Linked DNA regions of Homo sapiens. The protein of the gene in region 3 interacts with the protein of the main gene of each other region in a pairwise test. Each region holds a gene or a part of one and is shown on either strand. Other genes may lie near its edges.

Region 1 (7,023 bases), on a different chromosome or scaffold from region 3:
AGCAGAAGCAAGGTGAAGAGGCAGTGAGCAAGAAGCAAGACAAGAAACAGAAGTTGAGCAACCAAAACACAAATAAGATTAAAAAGTGAGTAAGAAGCTCCTGTGGCCAGCTAGGTCTGGACCAAACCTGTCAGGGGCAGCTCCTCAGAGATGCGCATGTGCATTAGAGAGAAAAAGTATCCTTAAAATGACCCCGTATGATAATAAGCTTATTAAAGCTGATGCATATGGACTGCATATCATGCATGTACTTAAGATTATGGGATGGAGGTGACAGGCAAGCACACAAGGGCCAAAGTAACATAAGCAACCCACCTATCAATCAAAAGGCAGATGCTGGCTAGAGATTAGGCAGCCTTGGGAAGAGAAGAAAAATAAACATATAAAAGAGCCCAAAATACACCAAACTGGTGCTGATCTCACTTCGCAGAGATTGGTCCACCCTCCCCTCTCTGAGAGTGTAATACTGTGCTGAATAAGCTTTTGCTGCAAAAGCAATGAATATTTGTTTTGCTGTTTGTGTGTGTCACATCCAATTCTTTGTTCGGGACACCAAGAGCCTGGAGCTGCGCTGCACCATCAGATAACACTCCGGAAGGGGGTCCTTACCTGGAGATGGCCACTCTTCCCCAGTTTCTGCTCCATGAGACTGTAGGAAGTGATCGTGATGAAGAGGGGCATGGCGAAGTTGAAGAAGGACATGGTGAAGAGGAAGCTGGTGAAGTTTCTACAGGGAGAGCGGGTGGAGGATTGGGGTTAGCTCTCAGGGATGGCCAGCTGCCCTCAAGGACCCACCAGCTCTGCCCTAGATGATCGGTTGTGGGGAAATGCCCCATTCAGACAAGCTCGCAGTGTGGTTGCTCCCGGGTCCCAGGTGAACTCCCTTTAGGAGCCAGGGAGCTACAAGGAGGAAGAGGCCTCTTTCTTGTTCAAGTGCTCAGCCCTGCTTTCCTGTTTGTCCCCCAAGCATGAAGAATGGGAAATTTTAGTTTGGGAAACATGTTCACCCAATGGTGGGGATGTCAGTGGGCCAAGAGAAAGGAACATTCAAGGAGCATTCTAGGCCCAAAGGTTTTAAAAGGAGACGGGATAACAAGAAGACTGGATACTGTGTCACTGAAGAAATGGTTGAAGGCACCACAGAAGAGCTTGGGTTCCCAGGTAGTGGTCATGGGGAGGTGAAGGGAATAGTGGGAGTCCCAGGGAGACAGATTCCCATTTTCTGAAGGGAAGACTATGTCACCTTGGAGCCGTCCACCAGGGAGGGGCAGCTGGAAGGACTGGACCCTGGCTGGGGAGTGCCATGGAGGGACACTTGGACCAGGCCCAGCGTTCTCAAGAATGCATCACCTGGAAAGCCTGTCATCCAGTGCAGATGCCTCATGATTAAACACCATGGGTAAAGCAGATGAATGCAACTTGGCTCTGGTGGAAGCAAGAGGGGCTGGAGCCCATGTGACCATTCCTCAAGGCAGTTCCTAAAGGATCCCCCTAAGCCCTTGTCTCCCTAGAGCCTCCTGATGGGGCAGTACCAGAACACGAGCCCCATGAGGGTGGGGACCCTCATGCATTCTGTCCTATTTCTCCAGGGATTGCCTCATAGCGTATGCTCAGGGCATTCCCTCCCAATGCAAGGACCTTAATGTTCTTTGAATCTATTGTACCAAGGGCGTGGCTCCCTCTAGAAATTGATGAGGTCAGAGCCATGATGGTCGACTGTGCTGAAGATGGCTAAGAGGTGGTGCGGCTTGGTGACTGTTACCACTGACACAAGCCAATGGCTCCCTGTATGATGTCTCTTTTTGGGTTCAACTCTGGGTCCCAATTTTCACAGCATTCCCATCACCTGGCCAGTTTTCAGAACAGGCTTTTTCCAGTCCCACTGTCCACCTGCAGGTGGGTATCATGATTAAGAAGTTGAGATTGTCTGGCAAACGTTGACATTTCCCCATTTGGATTTTCAGCTGGGGCACCCTTGTCATAGGAGTTCAAAGCCAAGATTCCCATGGATAGGAGCCTCGAAGCTGCTCCTCCCACCTCACCTGTCCCCCTTGGAGTAGTCCAGGGTGCAGCATGTCCCCAGTGGCTCATAGTCGTAGTGACCCCAACCCAGAAGGGGCAGAGCTGCCCAGAAGGCAGAAGACAGCCACACGAAGAGCACCAGAGAGACGGCTGAGTTCCAGGCCAGCTGGCTACCTGCACAGGACAGAGGAAGAAGAGGAGGTTGTGAGGAGGAGATGGCCTGATAGAGTGAGAAAGAATGGACTTCCTGATCTCGAAGAGTGTCCCTTCAAGTGATCCACCAGCCTCAGTCTCCCAAAGTGCTGGGATTACAGGATTGAGCCACTACATCCTGCCAGAAGGAGGTTTTCTTATCCCTGTGTTACGGTCTAAAAAATTGAGGCTGAGAGAGGGGTTAACTAAGCAACTCACCAAAATGAGAACCCCAGCTCTGATGCTTAATAACTCAGAGCCTCAGGCAAGTGAAGAGCTTCTTTGAGCCCCAGTATTCTCGCCCACAATGGGAATGATAATCCTTGCCTCAGAGGATTGTTATGAAGAATGAAATAGATAATGGATGGTGAAGGTCTCCAAATAGACACACTATACCATCTTCTTCAGAGGACAGAGACGAGGGAGTGGCAAAGAGACAGATACGTTTTCAGAGACAAAGTTCAGGAAGAAGCATAGGCAGGGGTTCAGGTGAGGGTCATAGGGGATGGAGGCAGAAGTCTGGACTTACCACCATCCTCAGCACTTGCTCAGAATCAGGCCACTGCCCCTGCTTCCAGGACACCCTCTGAGAATGCTTGACTCGGGGGTTGGGGCTCAATCTCAGTGCCAATGGCAGAGGCTGGGTCCCAGCAGCATCTTTTGATATGAACCAGCCATGCTGATTTGACCTCCTCTAGTCCCTTCCCTGAAGCCCCCCTCTCTGCTGCAGTGTCATTGGGTCCTTCCCATTCAGTGGTTCCTCCTGGATCTGGCTTCAGGATGCACTTCCCAGGTGCCCTCCTCTGTCTACTGTTTTTTTGTCATACTCCTTTGTATATAAGATACCAGGGCAGAGGACAGTTCTCCAGATGGGTTTTGATCGGGAGAGAAGAGCATGTCTACAACCTCCCTCATCTGACAGTTTGCTTCTACTGATACGGCTCCAGATGGAGTTTGCTTGGATGTGACCTTCTGATATGAACTGAATGTTTGTGTCCCCTCAAATTTATATGTTGAAGCCCTAATCCCCAATGTGATGGCATTTGGAGGTGGGGCCTTTGGGAGATAACTAGGCCATAAGGGTGGAGCCCCCATGATGTGATTAGTGCCCTTATAAGAAGGGACACAATTAGCTGGACATGCTGCATGCGCCAGTAGTCCCAGCTAGTCAGGAGACTGAGGTGGAGAATTGCTTGAACCCAGAAGGCGGAGGTTGCAGTGTACTGAGATGGTGCCACTACATTCTAGCCTGGGCAATAGAGTGAGACTCTGTTTCAAAAAAATGAAAGAAGGAACACAAGAGTGACAATCTCTCTCTTTTAATGTGAGGACATGGCAAGAAGGTGAACATCTATAAACCAAGAATCAAGCCCTCACCGAACCTGACCATGCTGACACCTCGCATTTGGACTTCCCAGCCTGAATAACTGAGAAATAAATTTCTATTGTTCAAGCCACCGAGTCGATGGCATTCTATTATAGGAGCCTGGGCAGACTAAGACACCTCCCATCCCAACTGTGGGCACGATAATTACGTGCAAGGACAGGAAGACTCAATATAGTTAAGATGTCAGTTCTTCCTGTCTTTTTTTAAAAAAATTTTTGAGACAGAGTCTTGCTGTGTCACCCAGGCTGGAGTGCAGTGGCGTGATCTCGGCTCACTGCAACTTCCACCTCCCAGGTTCAAGCGATTCTCCTTCCTCAGCCTCTCAAGTAGCTGGGATTACAAGCTCATGCCACCATGCCCAGCTAATTCTTGTATTTTTAGTAGAGATGGGGTTTCACCATGTTGGCCAGGCTGGTCTCGAACTCCTGACCTCAAGTTATCTGCCCACCTCAGCCTCCCAAAGTGTTGGGATTACAGGCATAAGCCACCATGCCTGGCCTTTTCTTTTCTTCTTCTTCTTCTTCTTTTTTTTTTTTTTTTTATTGAGGCGGAGTCTCATTCTGTTGCCCAGGCTGGAGTGCAGTGGTGCCATCTCAGCTCACTGCAACCTCTGCCTTCCAGGTTCAAACAATTCTCTGTGGGCACAATAATTAATATCTACCTGGACCATTGTGCTGCCTCAGACTTTCAGCTTTAGAAACAGATGGCCAAGGTGACATGCCTACAACCACCCAGGGATGGAGTAGATGAATTCAGACCTCCTCATTCCCCTTTGCCTGCCTTCACACTGCTCTGCCATGCTCTCAGTATAGAAAGGGCTTTGATCTAAGGCCTCTGGCACAGGGATTAACTGTTCTATATTGAGGCAGAGAAGCCTGTTGCTATCTGAGAAGGTGGTGTGTGTGTGTGTGTGTGTGTGTGTGTGTGTGTGTGTATAAGATGGTCCAAGGGAGCATTAGGGGCAGGGGCTGGGATGTAAGGAGTGGGAGAAGTGCTCTGAGGCCAAGTGGACAAGAGGGCTAACCTATCGCCACTCAAAATGATGAGACCGATGGCAGCATTTTGGCCTGGAGAGAGGCATATGACAGGAGAGACCCATGAGGGGCAGTGAATTTTCAGGGAAGGGGGCTATACATGTGACTATGGCAAGGGAAGTTCTGTGGATTCCAAAGAGGACATGCCATGGTTTGAGGCTGTGCTGGCTATAGACCTCACAGCAGCCTCTGTGCTGGACAAATTCATAGCTCAGGACTTGGAGGTACCAGGTCATGCCCAGTGCTGGCTCTGCCCTTAGTAGCGAGGCAAGCTGCTTAACTTCTCTGTGCCTCTGCTTCCGAGGCTGTGAGCTGAAGGTTTGCTAGGAGGGTTAGCTGAGCCACAGCTCCCCAAAACATGTTTATGTACCCCTGGTGGTAAACAGGGTTCTAGATGGTCTCTGGTGAACAGGTTTTTATTTTAATTGTATTAAAATTATAAGAACATTAAACCTGTGATTTCCCAGATGTTGTTTAGAATGAGCTTGTAGCAGGTGTTTACATTTTAAAAAATGAGTCACTTTTAAGAAAAAAAAAATTAAGGAAAAATGGAGCAGTTTGTACACTGATATGGCCAATTATGAAGATGGTATTTGACAGTGCAGCTTGTGAAATCTAGAGCTGGACAGTTTTCATGAAGCCTCATGGAAGTGTGGGGTGCCAGGGCACATGCCCAGCTACACACACATACACACAGCCTCTCTGCGCCTGTCTGCAGAGTAGTGCCTGTCTGCAAGGGCATTTTCTGTATCCCTGATCTCATTTCATTTTCAAAATAAAACTGAGATTGGTTATTAAAATCATCTCAGCCGGGTACGGTGGCTCACGCCTGTAATCCCAGCACTTTGGGAGGCTGAGGTGGGTAGATCACGAGGTCAGGAGTTCAAGACCAGCCTAGCCAATATGGTGAAACCCCATCTCTACTAAAAATACAAAAATTAGCCAGGTGTGGTGGCACATGCCTGTAGTCCCAGCTACTCAGGAGGCTGAGGCAAAAGAATCACTTGAAACCAGAAGGCCGAGGTTGCAGTGAGCCGAGGTCACACCACTGCACTCCAGCCTGGGCAATAGAGCGATTCCGTCTCAAAAAGAAAAAGAAAATCATTTCGCAGAGGAGGAGACTAAGGTTCAGAGAGGATCCCTGACTTGCCCAAGGTTGCGGTAATGGCAAGAGAGGCCCAACAGCTCTCCTGCACACTCTCCCACCCTCCCTCCTTTCCTGAAATGAGTGCCTATGCATGCACACTCACACCTACCCACACTTCCCTGTACTGGGAAACACGGAGCAGTAGCTAGTTATGACTGCCCCTCCCTGCCTCTTATCCTCTCCACACTGCATCGGTGTCCCTCCACTCCAGGAGCCCAGATACATACGGGTGCAGTAGTGGTGATAACGCCCCCATGCGATGGCTGCACTGCTGCAGATGCTGGCCAACGCTGTCACAAAGCCCTGGAAGCCGTGAGCCTGGCAGCCGTCCGAGCCGTAGGGCCAGCGCCTGTGGGAGACACTGGGCACCAGTGACCTCTCCTCCGATCCTTTCCACCTCCCACACCTGCCAAGTACAGCTTGGAGTGTGTGTTCCTGAATGCTGCCCTTCTTCTCTGAAGAGGGCCTTAATATTGGTGTCTTTCCTATGAGGCGTTGGAGCTCAAGTAACTGGGCTGAAGGGGTGGAGCCCAATGCACACTCTCCAGGCTGGGTGACTTTGACTGCACCATGGTTGGGCCATAGGCTCTCTCTGCGTGATCAGATCCCTCTGTCACAGGAGAGCTCATGCCTGTATTTGATAGGTGGGGAAACTGACATTCAAAGAGGCAAAGATACTGAAGCCAAGGTCACACAGAAGATGAAGGCAAAGTCAGAGGGGAGATCCCAGGCCTCCCCAGCCTAAAAGGGCAAGCAAAGGTGGAAACTTCAATTCTCTGTGGGAGGAAGAGTTCTCACTGATGCAGACCCCCCAGGCTGGTCAGCACTGAGCATGCACATCCGGGGGGGCTCCAGCCTCCGTCTGTAGTGTCCAAAACCAGAATGAGAATGTCCAGTCTGCTTCAGAAAACAATTTTATAAACACCTTCTGAAGCTGTGATGGAAGACCCTGGTTTTTGTATAAGGAGGTATTAGACACTAGCTAGTTATGACTGCCCCTCCCTGCCTCTTATCCTCTCCACACTGCATCGGTGTCCCTCCACTCCAGGAGCCCAGATACATACGGGTGCAGTAGTGGTGATAACGCCCCCATTTGTGTTCACAAACACTTACGTAGAGTCCTAGGTATCAAGCATTATTTTAAGTTATTTACACATAATAGAAGTAAATACTTCCAACCACCTATATGAGTTAGGAAATAATATCCGATTTATGGAAGAAGCCCAGAACTAGAAATGCTG
Region 2 (7,959 bases), on a different chromosome or scaffold from region 3:
GAGATGGTGCCACTGCACTCCAGCCTGGGCAAGAGAGTGAGACTGTCTCAAACAAAACAAAACAAAAAAAAACTAGGTAAAAATCTGGTCACTTAATGGCTGCGTAACCTGGAACAAGTGATTCCAGCTCCTTCTAGCTCTAGAACTATGCTCCTGGATCTCACTGCGACTCTGATCAGGGTAGGAAGAGTAGAACATGGTAGATTCTGCATGCCACCAGCACTCAGTCTTTGGGCTATGAGAAGGATACTCCCCCTAGAGCAGTGGACTGAATTGTTAACTGAGCTAGAGCTTCCCCAACCCCCCAAGGAAGACACTGCAGTGGCAGTTAGGCCTGGAAATCTGGGACAGGAAATCATAAATACCAGTTACTGTGTTGGACAGGTCAAATGATTGCTGACAAGGTAAAAACCTCCCCTCCCTGTGCCACATCCCGATTCTTGCTCCTGGGGTACAGCCACCAGGACCAAGTCAAACCTGCACTCTGAGAATGGGAAGGGATGCTGAACTCTCACTTTCTAAGAACCCTGAGCCCCACTCTAGGTCTGGGAATGGAAAACCCATCGAATGGAGTTCTGAGCAGGGATACGGGCTCTAACTCTGGACTTTCCATCGTATCTCTATGTGACTGCACGCAAGTTACTCTATCCAGGCTTATTAGCTGGATGTAATAAGCCCAAGGAAGGCCCAAGGCCTGATGCTGGATACTATGTGTGATACTATGTGTCTGGCCGAGTCTGGGGACACAATGTAGCTTATTACTACGTTTTACATCTTAGTAATAAGAAAAAAAACGAAATTTCTATGTGTCCTCCTTTGTTCTAATCTATGTAGCCAAGAAAGGATTAGGATGATCCTTTCTTTGATCTGGCTTGTGGCAGAGATAAGAGAACAGGGGCGAGAATCAAAAACTGGTTAAAAATCTGAGTCAGTCACTTAATGGCTGTGTGACCTGGAACAAGTGATTTAACTTTCTGGAGGCTAAACTTCATCTTTTTTTTTTTTTTTAAGAGACAGAGTCTCGCTCTAGAGCCCTGCCTGGAGTACAGTGGCACAATCTGAGCTCACTGTAACCTCTGCCTCCCAGGTTCAAGTGATTCTCCTGCCTCAGCCTCCCAAGTAGCTGGGATTACAGGCATGCGCCACCATGTCTGGCTAATCTTTGTATTTTTTATTAGAGATGGAGTTTTGCCATGTTAGCCAGGCTGGTCTCAAACTCCTGACCTCACATGATCCACCTGCTTGGGCCTCCCAAAGTGCTGGGGTCACAGGCATGAGCCACTGCCCTTGGCCTTCTTCATCTTTCTTTACAGCACTGTCGTGAAGATTTATAGCCTAACTGTGTTCTCCAGAAACTGTTATCTCCAGAAAAACAGGAAGACATTGTTCTTATAATCTTTCCTATTATTATAAAGACTGAAGAAAAGACCAATTCTCCCCCTGGCTTTTCAGACTTTGAGATAAAATCTTTCAAATTTTTTTAATTTATATTGCCCCCCACCACCTCCCTGCCAGCTGGGCAACCTTCCCACTGTTGGCCCAAGAACTCTCATGCCTGGCCATCCCAGTGTACTATCAATGCCACTGATTCACAGAAAACAGTATGTGCGCTGGTGACATTTCCAGGGGAAGGACTGGGTAAACTCACCTCGACATTCAGAGAACTGGCCTGGGAGCTGAGGTTGGCACTAGTGAGAGCAAGCGGACCCTCAAACATCTGAGCCAAGTCTTGCATAAAAGCATGATCAGGAATCCGAATGCCTACAAGCTGTAAGGCAAGGGGAAAGGGATCATGAGAAAGGTTGGAAGGGATAAGAGGGTAAGTCTTATCTGGATCCTAGTGAAAGCCAAGTGGCCTGGAGTCTGGGGACACAAGAGAAAACTTGACTCACAGGCGTAAAAGGGTTTAGGTCCTTGTTGAGCTCCTCCGAGCGTTCCATCACCAGGGTCACTGGTCCTGGCAGTAGGTCTTTCAGGAGCCCCTCAGGTACTCTCACACGGCAGTATCTGGGAAACACAGAAGAATAAATCCATTCAAAATTGAAGGGCCACTGGTGGTCCTTTCCTAGACTCTAGGCAGACGTAGAAAAGGAATCCTTCGAGTTTACAATGGGAGCCGCCTGTCTCCCTGCTTCACCTCCCTAAGAGCTTGAGCAGAAAGCAGGGCTCCAGAGGCGCACCCCTGGCTTGACGCCCATGTGCCTCTGGTCTCAGGGACTACAACAGCTGCACCGCTGTGATATCATGATAGTGGGATCAAGCTCCACGTTTTATTTTCTTCAAGGCATTCGCTATTAAATTAAGCTACTGTGTTTGTTTGCTTTTTTCCCGGGGGCCTCCCCAATTAGCACAAATACGCCAAGGGAACAGGGTCCCTGCCTTTCTCGTGTGTTGCTGCTTCCCAGCAGCATGTAGTTCAGGGCCCGGGGCACGTTAAGTCCTCGGTACATATTTCCAGTTCCGGATTCCTTGGTGAGCCTGGACAAGCCCCTCCCGCTCTCTGCGCCTCAGTCTCCCAAGCCTGTCACCGGAAACCCCTCCCGCGGTGCCGCCCCTAGCGGGGCCGGGTCGGGGCGGCCTTACCTGTAGACGTCGGCCACGCGGCCGAGGCATACGGCCAGAGGCTTGGCCTCGCTGCGACCCTTGAGGCGGTACACAGCGCGCAGAGCCGCCGAGCAGCTCGCCGCGCAGGCCAGGCCGTACAGCGTATCGGTGGGGACGGCCACCACGGCGCCGGCGCGCAGCTCGGCCACGGCGGCCCGCAGCGCCTCGGTCCAGCCGGCGCGCTCCGGGCTCGCGGCCTGCACGGCCCCGCTCCCCGGGAGCCGCAACAGCCGGGCGCCGGGGGCCGCCGGAGCGGGACTCGGCGGGCGGAAGAGGCGACCGCTCCGGGAGCCAGCAGGCCCCTCGCTCAACCCCACGCTGGCAGCCACCGCGGCCCTCATCCCCCTGCACCGACGCGCCGGAGACATCCGCCCAGGCCCGCTTCCGGGAGGAAGTGACGCTCCCAGCCAGCTTCCGGTCCAGGAGACTCGGCCCCGCCTCTGCGCCGGGCAGCTTAAAGGGACCACGACCCCCAGGAGGATTGAAGGAGACCGGTGGGGACGGGGCGGGGCGCAGCCTTGCGAAGCCCTAACGCAGCGCTGGGGAGGGGGGCGGCCGAAAGGGGGGCGGTGGTCGGGCCGCGCAAGCGGAGATGGAATGGGGCCCGGGCTCAGACTGGTCACGGGGGTGAGAGGGGGCCCGTCGGGGCGGGAGGAAGGGGCTTGGCCCCGCGCAAGCGCCGGCCCTGACCGTCTGTCTCTCGCTCTCTCCCGGGCAGGGAGGCTGCCGGCGTGGACCGCGGGAAGGCGGGGCTGGGGCTCGGCGGGAGGCCACCCCCACAGCCGCCCCGGGAGGAGCGCGCCCAGCAGCTGCTGGACGCGGTGGAGCAGCGGCAGCGGCAGCTCCTGGACACCATCGCAGCCTGCGAGGAGATGTTACGGCAGCTGGGCCGCCGGCGCCCGGAGCCGGCTGGTGGCGGGGTTAGTGCCCACCCTGGGCTGGGCTGGGGTGGGGTGGGGTCTGCCCACTGGCTAGGCTGGCCAAGCCCTAGCTTACCCTGGAGGGGGGAAGTATGTCTCCGCCGCTTTATCCCTAACCTCCTTTGATCTGGTGAGAGGTTTCGAAAAAGTTAATACTATCCAAATGCCAAATGGCCACATCCTTGTGGGGCCTAATCCAAGGCCTTGCCTCCCAGCCTCACTTTTTTCCTTTCTGTTCCAACTAGAACGTCTCAGCCAAACCTGGAGCGCCCCCCCAGCCGGCTGTCTCCGCCAGAGGCGGCTTTCCAAAGGATGCTGGCGATGGAGCTGCGGAGCCCTGACCATCCCCGAGCAGAATACCCTGACTTCTCTCCCTCCCCAGGGCCGGTGGCTGGACTCTGAACAACTCCCTTCAGTAAAGGGGCCAGTCTTCACTGGCAGTGGCTGGTACTTGGCTCTCAGCCTGGAGTGGCAGCTCTGCTAGCAGCTGGGTTCACTCCCACTTCATCCTGGCTGAAAGCAGTGCTGTGCTTTGAAATGCAGCCAATGAATACCCAGTCTGATTACCCAGATTTGGGCAGACCAGCAGTGCTCGCCAGAGTGGTCTGGCCTGCTATGGGGGATCCAGGTGGTGTTACATGTCCATTTCATGTTTTGGGGGCTTTTAGCCCCACAAAACACCTTCAGTAGAGCCTTGATTAAAAGGAAACCTGCAGACTCTCCTGGTGACCGACGTTTCCTTTCTGTCCCCTCTCCAAGACTGATGGCTGGGAAGGGGGGAGTGGTGGAAAAATGTCAACTATGGGCAGGGTTGGTAAGAAATGCCACAGATACTACCAGATTTAAATAAGCATTTAATTAGGATTTCATTAGTATTTAATATTGCTTTTTCAATTCCAAAAAGTTAAATTTTCACTTTTTAGCAGATATTTTAAAGTACAATATTAAGTTTATACAAAATGAGCAATTAAGCAAACACCATTATTTCACATTCTTCAAAAATACAAATTCATATTTATTCTTTTTTGGGTTTGGAGGTTTCTTCCTTTGGAAGTACTGAACCTGTAACGTTTTCACATCGCTCAGTGGAAGTCCGTTGTTCCCATGTTTCACACTTACTTTTACATAATCCAAATAAAACTATTTGGGATTTTAAAAGTTGTCACCAAGACCCCGGCCAATGATTAGTGTATGTCAAAAAAAAGGGCTCTTGGGGGCTCTTGCCTTTCCTGGCTAGAAGATCTGAGCCAGAAATTCAGCAAAAATCTGTTTCCAGCCACCCTCCCCAAATAGGGACTAGAAAGAGTTCACAGGAAAAGGGAACAGACACCTTGAACTCTGACCCCCACCCCCACATTCTCCAAAACACAACGAAGGATGTAGACTGTTGAGTCAAATAGCCCTTGGGAGGCCTGAGAACACAGCAGGAAAAGGGCAAGAGAAAGCCTCTGACTTGGCACACTACGAGGATAACAAGGATATTGCAAAAAACACCCCTGGGTTTTGGTGCAAAAAGGTTTTATGAAAAATTTTCCCATAAGAAAAAGTAGAAACTGCATTGAGCTGAGAAAGTGACACTACATTATCACCCAATTTTTGGCCCAACAGGCACACCACCAAAAGGGCAGTGTGTGGTTTTAAACCTCAATTCCAGTAAAAAAGCTTGTACTATGTACACATTGACATAAAGATCCAGTTTAATTTGCATTTTTCAGTGCAGACTGAGAAGCCCTCTCTTGAACAGGAGTAACAGTGAGAAATGCCCAGTGGTCGTCGGCTTCCCCAAAGGGCATCAGAAGAAATACAGGACTGTTTCCCTCTCTCCCTAAAAAACATGCAAGAGGAAACAGGCCAAAATGGCTAACCAATCAGAAATATGCTTCAGTTTTGTTGCCTCCACCCCCAAATATTAAGGAACAGACAATTTCTGATCTATGTCACAGCAGAACTATTTGCATATTGGATCTATGAAAATCCTTCTGCTTTGGCTGAAGTATATTCTAAAACTTGTCTATTCTATAGCCTGAGAATTGAAGATAAAATGGGGGAGGTGGAGTAAAGGAAGAAAGTTGATAATGATTCATGGGATGTAATGTTTGTTTATAGGATTTAATGAAGGCTGGAGGCCTTTTTGCTTAAGGAACCAACACAGGTAGTATGGGGAGCAGTATGGAAATGGCTCATGTTGCCCCCTGCCACCCATGCCTCCCCAAACATATTTCTGATTGGTGGTGTAAGACAATTGTAAACTCTTGAGAAATATTGTTGCAGTTCCACAAATCAATGGTTTCAATCACTCTGGAAAAGTCTTTAAGGACAATGGATGTGATTACAAATATAAAAGTCTAGAAGGTGCCAGGTTTCTACCTAGGAACAATCTGTTCCTTCCTTTCAGGCATCATTTTGTAATGGTGAAGAGGGAAAAGATGGCGAGAGACCAAGAAGTGATGAAAAAGGGCCTCAACAGTCAGCAGAAAACAGGACCCACAGCAGTTCTTCAGAGAGCCTGAGGGGGCGCCCTGGGGCACACAGGGAAGGCTTGCATAGATTGAGCGGTTGCTGAGAATGCATAATAGTGTTTCCCTATGGACAGTCTCACAGCACAGGGCTGATTGAGCGGAAAAACGCTGCCAGGCCAGGGCCACATGGGACAACGACCATCAAGCTACACATATTGCACCAAGGTAAGTGCTTTTCTTTTCACACCTCAATTTAACTTTTTATTCTGAGCAAAAAATAAAACTTTGTGGAAAGTATATATATGTATATATACACACAAAAGAAATTGCAGCAATCGGGTTAAAGATAAAATAACCTAAAGTGCTTTTTTATTTTATTATTTCTTTAATATACCAATATGAGGTTCTGCAAACTTGTCCCTCTGGACACATTCAGCATTATACAAAGTCTCTCAGGAAAACCCACCCACCCTCCAATATCCCCATCAGTCCACAGCCTTGACCCTGAAAATAAAACTCTCCGATCTACCAACTATCCCAGAGGTGAAGAAGAGAAGCCCCTTGCCTTTTACTCAGAGAGATCTTCACATCTTAAGGCCCCTCCTGGGCTTTGTACCATGATCTCCTTCTAAACGGAGGTGGAATTCAATAAATGACACCACTTCTGTCACCAAACTGGTGGTGCCCCCATGAGACTGGCCAGACCCTGCCAGCAAAGACTGGGCCACCTTCCCTCAATGCCCAACCTACCTGCCTGGGAAGGGCCAAGTTCACTAAGGCAGTTTGGTGGTGCCAGCCAGTTTCCTTACCACCTCCTAAGTCCATGAACCCCAATCCCTGGTGCTAAGCACCCTTTGAAGCGGTTGTCTAATTGGAGATGTTAGTAGGAGCTAGAAGATAACGTACAGGGTGAAAATGGTTAAGTTTACTATGGGAGGGGAAAAAGGCTTGATTTTTACCTGCTAGAATTCTACAAATCCTCCCTAACCTCACCCTAGGTTCATTTCCCAAGTTTGGGAAACCACACTCACCATGAAGGTTCTTTCTGGCTCCAGCTTAGCTAGGGGCCCTCTCTTCTCCAAGGTCCTCGGCACTAGAGACCAGGCTTATGGAAGGACAGGTAGGAAAAGAGAACTGGAAAAGGAGGGAAAGAAAGACTGCCTATCCTGGGAAATAAACCTGATCTTCACAACCACTCACTGGCATTTTAAGCACATTCCTGATTTTTCAAAAGCTGATTGGATCTGATAGTCTCTCTTGTAATCTAGAGTCACCCTCAAAAGGCAGATACTTCAGCTTCTTCAACTGGAAAAATCTGTCAGCCTAAACACTGTTTAAGATGCTGCTTCGTCACCCCCGATCTTTGAGAGTGAAAAGGCCACTGACCTGGGTAGGGCCCAACATGAGCACAGCCCTGGCTAACCAAGAAGAGTCGCTATTTAAACTGTGGGTGCTTCAGATGTCCTTCCCTGGGCTCCTATTTCCCACTTCCGCCCCAGGGAACCCAAATCCCAGGTGACCACAGGATGGGGATATGGGAAGGTCATTACTGCCCTCTGATACAAGCTTACTTTGGGGTCCCATCACTACTCTCTCAGAAGTTGTAAACAGCAAGGGCCCTACCTCAAAACTTCCCATGGGTGCGAGGCCCAGAGACAGCCAAGGACAACTCATGCTCAGCAGTTGGTTTTCCAGGAGGACTGGAAACCTCCTGCCTTATCAACTTCTGCTGAGGTCAATGGTCAACAGAAGCCACAATCCTTTTGGGGAAGGGAGTGCAGAAGGTCAAAAAGAAGTCAATTCCCTAGACCAGGCATGGTGGCTCACACCTGTAATCCCAGCACTTTGGGAGACTGAGGCGGGAGGATCACCTGACGTTGGGAGTTCGAGACCAGCCTGACCAACATGGAGAAACCCCGTCTCTACTAAAAATACAAAATTAGCCAGGCGTGGTGGCGCATGCCTGTAATCCCAGC
Region 3 (7,023 bases):
ATTTCTTCTTTCATGAACTGCTTACTTGTGATTTGCACACTTTTCTTACGGTATTTTTCTTATATATTTCTAAGAGCTATTTCAACATTAAGTATATTATTTGTCTCATTTACATAATTTAATATGTATTTCTAATATTAGACTCTTGTAAGATGTATCTCAATTTCAGAGATGTTAAAATGTGAAAAAATAAGCACCTAAAAATCAAGCATTTTGGGCAGACTGCTTGAACCCAGGAATTGGAGACCAGCCTGGGCAACAGGGCAAAACCCTGTGGCTACAAATTTTTTTTTTATTTCTGAGACGGAGTCTCACTCTAGTGCCCAGGCTGGAGTGCAGTGGCGTGATCTCAGCTCACTGCAACCTCTGCTGCCCAGGTTCAAGCAATTCTCCTGCCTCAGCTTCCCGAGTAGCTGGGATTACAGGTGCCTGCCACTGTGCCCGGCTAGCTTTTGCATTTTTAGTAGAGACGGGGTTTTACCATCTTGGCCAGGCTGGTCTTGATCTCCTGACCTCATGACCCACCTGCCCCGGCCTCCCAAAGTGCTGGGATTACAGGCGTGAGCCACTGCGCCTGGCCAAAAAATTTTTTAAAAATTAGCTAGGCGTGGTGCTGCGTACTTGTGGTCCCAGCTACTTAGGAGGTTAACGTAGGACAATCACTTGAGCCAGGGAGGTGGAGGTTGCAGTGAGGTAAGATCACACCACTGCATTCCAACCTGCATGACACAGCAAGTCACTGTATCCCAAAAAAAAAAAAAAAAAAAAATCAAGCATTTTACTTTCCTCATTTACCTTTTACCTCTGCACATGGGGTTTTACTTTTTTACCTCTTTCATCCAACTGTAATTTATGTTTCCATGTTTTGTATTTTATTAAGATTTTTTTCTTTCATATTTAGTATCTCTAAAATTGCCACCTATCTTCTATAGACGTCCTAGATTTTATGAGACATGGAAATAAAAATAAGGATTTCATTTTATGTTTCTCCAAATAATTCACCAACTTTTAAATTGACTAGCATATTATTTCTTTGATATGACATTTTATTATATTTTGTAAATACTTACATACACACAAACATGTATATAAAAAAAACTTGAGCCTGTTTCTACCATGGATCCCTGATTACCATGGACCCCCAATTAATCTACCTAGCTTTGCCTCAGTAATACACGTGGAGCTCTACAAAAGCTTCCTAACAGTTCTCCATGACAATTCTTGCCTTCCTGAATGCTATTTTCCATATGGCTGTCAGAATGCTCTTAATCTTAAAATACAAATCTCATCAAATCCCTTTAATAGACCCAAATTGCCTGAGGTATTAATATAATGACAAAACTCAACATGGCAAATAAGGACTCCATGACTTCTGGAACCTCATCTTTCTGCTCTATGGCTAATCTGGCCTTCTATCATTTCCTCAAAAGGGTCAAGGTCCTTCTCATCTCTAGTCTCACTTGACGCTGTCCCCTCTTCACTGAATGCTGTTTATTGCTACTCTCTATCTGGTTAAATCCCACACTGGTACTGCAGGGCCCAAGCTAACTGATACAGCTACTAGAAACACAGAAATCATTTGGATTAAAAAAAAAGAATCCCTTGATATAAGCAATAGATAAAAGGGAACTGGGATGTAGTAATCAGAGATCCATAGTAGAAACACACCCAAGTTATTTATATACATGTTTGTGTGTACATAAATATTTATAAAATTTAATGTCATATCTAAGACATTTATTTCATTTATTGTATATATTCTCCTTGCTCAACTCTATCTTAGGTACACTATGAAAGCAGGAAGATGTGGGGAGGGGCAGAGGAGGGGAGATTAATTTCTTACATTTATCTTACTCTTCTGCCTTAGCCTGCTCTTTGAGCCTAAAAACAATTATAATAGAGAAGTACTCTCATGCTTAAAATAAAAGTAATAGAAGTGGTACCAAGCTATTCCACTTGAGTAAACAAATAAGCTGCTAAGGCTGCTTTCCTAATTATGGAGTTGCTACAGAGAAAACTAAGTAAAAACAAACTTTGTTTAGAAATTTGTCAATTTTCACTGAAAGAGAAATCTAAACTTTGTAAAAGTTTAAAAAGGTTTTACCAACTTTAAAATAGTAATTCACCCTAGAATAGTATCTCCTTATAATAAAACCTGTGTCCAGTTTTTTAAAAAAAAAGTCATATAGATACACAGATACTATTTCACAGCTTCATCCATTTATCTTTCTTCAGAGAAGTTCAATATGTATATATATACCCTAGTATATATGGTATATATTCTAGTGAAACATGCTTTCATCAGAAGCAGAAGAGATGGTGCAAAACAAAGTAACACAAAAAACAATGAAAACATTTTCAAAATGAATTTGGATTAGCAAATTTTTAAAACCAAGATTCAACGTGGCAAGGGCACAGCAAGAAAGGTATTTTCATACTGGTTAGGGGGTAAACTGGTAAAATCTTTCTGGGAAAGCGATTTCACAAACTATACACTAAGAGTCTCCAAAATATCCCTCTCTTTAAGCCAATGATCCAATTTCCAGGTATTTTCCCTAAGAAATAACCAAAAATATAAACAAGCATTGATAATAAAAGGAGACACCTACATGTCTGGCTCTGCTAGGGTTTTACAAATAGTAACCCTCAAACCATTTAACAGATAAGGAAAAACCAAAGCACATAATATAAGTAACTTCAATAAGGTCAGAGAGCTTATAAGCAGTTGAGCCAGGATCTGAACCCGGGCAATTCCACTCCAGAGCAGACACTCTTAAACTACTATATTATGTTGCCTTTTTAGATAAATGCCCAGTGTTTTACTTCCCAAAGTAAAACATCTGGAAATAAACATCTAACAAGAGAACAATGGTTGACTAACTTATCCATCCATAAAACTGATATTAAGCAGCATTAAAATATTTAAAAAGAGTTACTGACAGACAAATGCTTCTGATGTTAGATAAGAACAGACTACAAAACAATACTGCATATGTATCATGATCCCTATTAAAAAATACATATTCGTATACACATTAAGATAGCTAACTGTTACTACTAAATATATAACTGCTAATCTTCCACACAAAGGAATTTTGAGCAACCTAGACATTCCCTCAACAGAACTGTTAAAACATAAAGTTACAACAGCATTACTTACTCTTTTTATCTGAGGAGCTACTGAAATCTATACCACCAAGGCCTTCATTGCCTGCAGTTGAAGTAGCTGCTGTAGTTCCCAAAGTCAACCCTAAAGCATTCTGTCCAAGTCCTATAAATAAAACATAACTTATAAATTCCATCAAAAGACTACAACAATTTCCCCTTACTGATCAAAGGACTCTAATGCTTTTAAAGTTGGATCCTAGATTTTCTTCATATTTGATTTAGGCAAACAACAAGAAACAAGCCTGGAGATGTTTTGGCCAAAGACTGATAACCTTTCTTGAATTCGATGGCATATGCAGTTTGGATGATGCGATTTTTCATTATTACGAGGGCCAGAACATATATCAATTCAGTATGTAGGCACTCAATCTTCACTTGTTATAAAGGGGTTTTGTTACAGAGGGCTTTTAAACCCTCTCTACAAAAGCAGTTTCAGTTGGTGTATTTTCAGGTGAATACATCTTGTCTTACAAACACACTTTGGAACTACATACTTTTAAGATAATCTAGTGTGAATTTATAACATTTGAATATAACATGTATTGAATATAATTTCATACTCCCAAGTTCGTTTCACAAAACTTAAAAAAAAGTATTAGAATTCATTTGCTTATTTACATCTTCCCTCACTGACAAAAGGAATAAAAAGGACCAGACTACGGTTAATCATAAGTCATTAACGTACACTTGTGAGTCAAGCGCAAAATTTCAAGCATCTTGTGTTGATAAATCTGTATTTCTTTTTTATTGTTATTATTGTTTTTGAGATGGAGTTTCGCTCTTGTTGCCCAGGCTGGAGTGCAATGGCATGATCTCGGCTCACTGCAACCTCTGCCTCCCAGGTTCAAGTGATTGTCCTGCCTCAGCCTCCCAAACAGCTTGGATTACAGGCATGCATCACCATGCCCAGCTAATTTTGTATTTTTAGTAGAGATGCGGTTTCACCATGTTGGTCAGGCTGGTCTCGAACTCCTGACCTCAGATGACCCACCTGCCTTGGCCTCCCAAAGTGCTGGGATTACAGGTGTGAGCCACCGTGTCCAGCCTAATAAATCTATACTTTTATAAGACCATGCATTACTGAGCTAATACAATTTTTGTTCTTTTTAGAAGAGATGTTATCTCTAGATCAGTTTACTGACTCCTTAAACAGGCTCTTCTTTGTTTCCTTATCTGGTTAGTCAATATTGAGAAAGAGGAAAATGTATTTCTAAAATATGGCTAATAGGCTGGGTGCGGTGGCTTACGCCTGTAATCTCAGCACTTTGGGAGGCCAAGGCAGCCGGATCACTTGAGGTCAGAAGTTTGAGACCAGCTTGGCCAACATGGTGAACCCCCTCATCTCTACTAAAAATACAAAAATAAGCCAGGTGTGCTGGCACACACCTGTAATCCCAGCTACTCAGGAGGCTGAGGCAGGAGAATCTCTCTTGAACCCTGGAGGTGGAGGTTACAGTGAACCAAGATCACGCCACTGCACTCCAGCCTGGGTGACAGAGCAAGACTCCATCTCAAAATAAATAAATAAATAAATAAAATACGGTTAATACATCCAATTATGTATGAAAACCATCATTTTATAATTTAGTTTTCATATTTAAAGGAAAATATGCAGATTAAAAAGTGACCTGCTCAAAGTACTAAAATAAAAATAAGTACATTTAAATATAAATATTTACTATTCTGGAGAATAAATACCATCAATTACCTGATGTTCCTGTGTTTGTACTCTGGAAAAGTGAACCTCCCAAACCAGCTAAGGCTCCCCCTAAAGAGAGGCCTGTTGATGCAGTTGTAGTTGTGGCTGTTGTCCCACCCAAATTATTTAGAGTAAATCCTGTGGATGCTATAAAAAGAGAGATAGTAAGCTTTCAAAAGGCAACTTATTTAACAGCACCATAGAAAAATACAAATACGATGTTTTTAAAAACTGACATCCATGATAAAATTGGCTCTTTGGAAGAACTACTTGCTAAAAATTACATACTTAAGAATAAAGAGAAATAGCAGCTTCAAAGCAAAAATCTGCGACAGAAATAAGGGCTTTGAGGAGTATTAGAATGGTACCAGGTAACTGATTCTAGATAGCAATATTGTCTTCAACCCAGGCCACCAACTTCACCTTCATATTAAATGAATCATAAGCCAGGCAAGGTTTATGCCAAGTCTTTGTCTTCCCCTGTCACTAAATGCCTCCTTCAAAACAAAGTCAATATTAACAGCTTTACATTTTACCTCTCTAGCCCTCTCCCCTGCTTTGCTCTCTAAATAGGGACATCAAGACAGCCTCTCCTGCTTCAATGCTCAAAGCTGAATTTTCTTCTTTATAAATCAATAATTTCTGTAGTAAGGTGACTATCTATGTTCTCTAACCAGATAAAATTGAAATTTAACCATTAAATGCAACGGTTTTTCATTCTGCCTCACCTGCTGGAGTTGATGTCAGAGCAGACGAAAGAGTCAGACCGCTAGCTGAGGTAGAGGTAATAGGTAGAGCAAATGGTGTGGCAGATGCTGCAGGTTTATTGAATCCTAAACTGAAGCCTGTTGTAGCTGCAGATGTAGTGGCTGGCGTTCCTATTTAAATAAATAAATGAATAAACAAACAAACAAAAATCCTACTTTACCTGTAAGTGTTCTATTATACTGGTTTCAATAAGGATCCTTAAAAGTTCATGATACTACCTTTTGCCAATAGAAGAAGGGTGTATCTGTGAGAGAAAATATGTAAAAGTTGAGACTAAACCATGGTGAACACAAAAAAGATGGCTCTTTAAGAAAAACAAAAGAATGGCCAGGTACAGTGGCTCACGCCTGTGATCCCAAAACTTTGGGAGGCCAAGATGGGCAGATTGCTTGAGGTCAGGAGTTCAAGACCAGCCTGGCCAACACGGTGAAACCCTGCCTCTAGCTAAAATACAAAAATTAGCTCAATGTGGTGGTGCACACTTGTAACCCCAGCTACTCGGGAGGCTGAGGTACGAGAGTCACTTGAACCTGGGAGGGGGAGGTTGCAGTGAGCTGAAATCGTGCCACTGCACTCCAGCCTGGGAGACAAGAGTGAGACTCTGTCTCAAAAAATAAAAAAACAGAAAAGAAAATCCAATCGATGTAACATATCAATTTTTATTCTACTCCTAGATTTACCTCTAATGCAGCATTTATCCTCCTCCTTTCCCTCTCAGCAGAAAAATGGTCCCTCCTCTCTAATACTCTATCAATAACCATTCTCTATTCCTTTCTTCTGGCCCTTGTGTCTCTGTCAGCCCCCAGCTGTCTCCCTATTCCTTTTCAGTCCTTTTTTTCTGTAGCTCTCTTTCCTCTGTTCATGTCTTAACTGACACTTCCTAGAGTTCCATTCCTACCTCCTTACTTCCCCAATGACACACCCACTTTCATCATTTCTCCTACAGGTGATTAAGTCTAAACTGACATTTACCTAAGTCCTCATTGTCTAGTTCTATCTTGATGTCCCTTTGGCCTCCTACATATCTCACCACAAACATTTTTTGCTATATCTCCAACCTTGCTCAGTTCAATTGCTTAAGCCAGAAACCAGTCATCCTTGACATCCTTTCCTTCTCCTGTACTCCATTAGTTACAAATCCTGTCGATCCTACTTCAGAAATATCCTGTACTACAAGCATCCTTAAAAACCTTAGCTTAGGCCATATCTCTCTTAAGAACTACTACAACAGCATTTATTTCTCTGGTATCAGTCTCTTCTAACCTCTAATCTATTCTTAAAATTATCTTGGTTACCTTAAAAAAAAAAAAAAAAAAAAAGACAGGTGCCGTGGCTCACGTCTGTAATCCCAGCACTTTGGGAAGCCAAAGTGGGCAGATCACCTTAGG

What was found. Proteins that work in one complex are often made in the same cells at the same time.
Region 1: the proteins of NUP58 (region 3) and RGR interact in binary tests that used the Homo sapiens proteins (3 or more experiments, as listed by UniProt).
Region 2: the proteins of NUP58 (region 3) and YRDC interact in binary tests that used the Homo sapiens proteins (3 or more experiments, as listed by UniProt).

What each region holds. Positions count from the first base shown.
Region 1 is NC_000010.11:84,248,030-84,255,052, reverse strand, and holds part of RGR (RPE-retinal G protein-coupled receptor), read right to left. Parts: intron 6,144-7,023; coding exon of another isoform or gene 6,132-6,143; coding exon 6,010-6,131; intron 2,197-6,009; coding exon 2,043-2,196; intron 728-2,042; coding exon 610-727; intron 1-609. UniProt on the Homo sapiens protein: Receptor for all-trans- and 11-cis-retinal. Binds preferentially to the former and may catalyze the isomerization of the chromophore by a retinochrome-like mechanism.
Region 2 is NC_000001.11:37,805,209-37,813,167, forward strand, and holds the start of YRDC (threonylcarbamoyl-AMP synthase precursor), read right to left. Parts: upstream 3,001-7,959; 5' UTR 2,973-3,000; coding exon 2,584-2,972; exon of another isoform or gene 2,582-2,583; intron 2,008-2,581; coding exon 1,893-2,007; intron 1,769-1,892; coding exon 1,649-1,768; intron 1-1,648. Other genes in the region: uncharacterized protein C1orf122, read left to right, coding at 3,197-3,231, 3,323-3,524, 3,770-3,865. UniProt on the Homo sapiens protein: Cytoplasmic and mitochondrial threonylcarbamoyl-AMP synthase required for the formation of a threonylcarbamoyl group on adenosine at position 37 (t(6)A37) in tRNAs that read codons beginning with adenine.
Region 3 is NC_000013.11:25,311,605-25,318,627, reverse strand, and holds part of NUP58 (nucleoporin p58/p45), read right to left. Parts: intron 5,746-7,023; coding exon 5,596-5,745; intron 5,015-5,595; coding exon 4,877-5,014; intron 3,272-4,876; coding exon 3,161-3,271; intron 1-3,160. UniProt on the Homo sapiens protein: Component of the nuclear pore complex, a complex required for the trafficking across the nuclear membrane.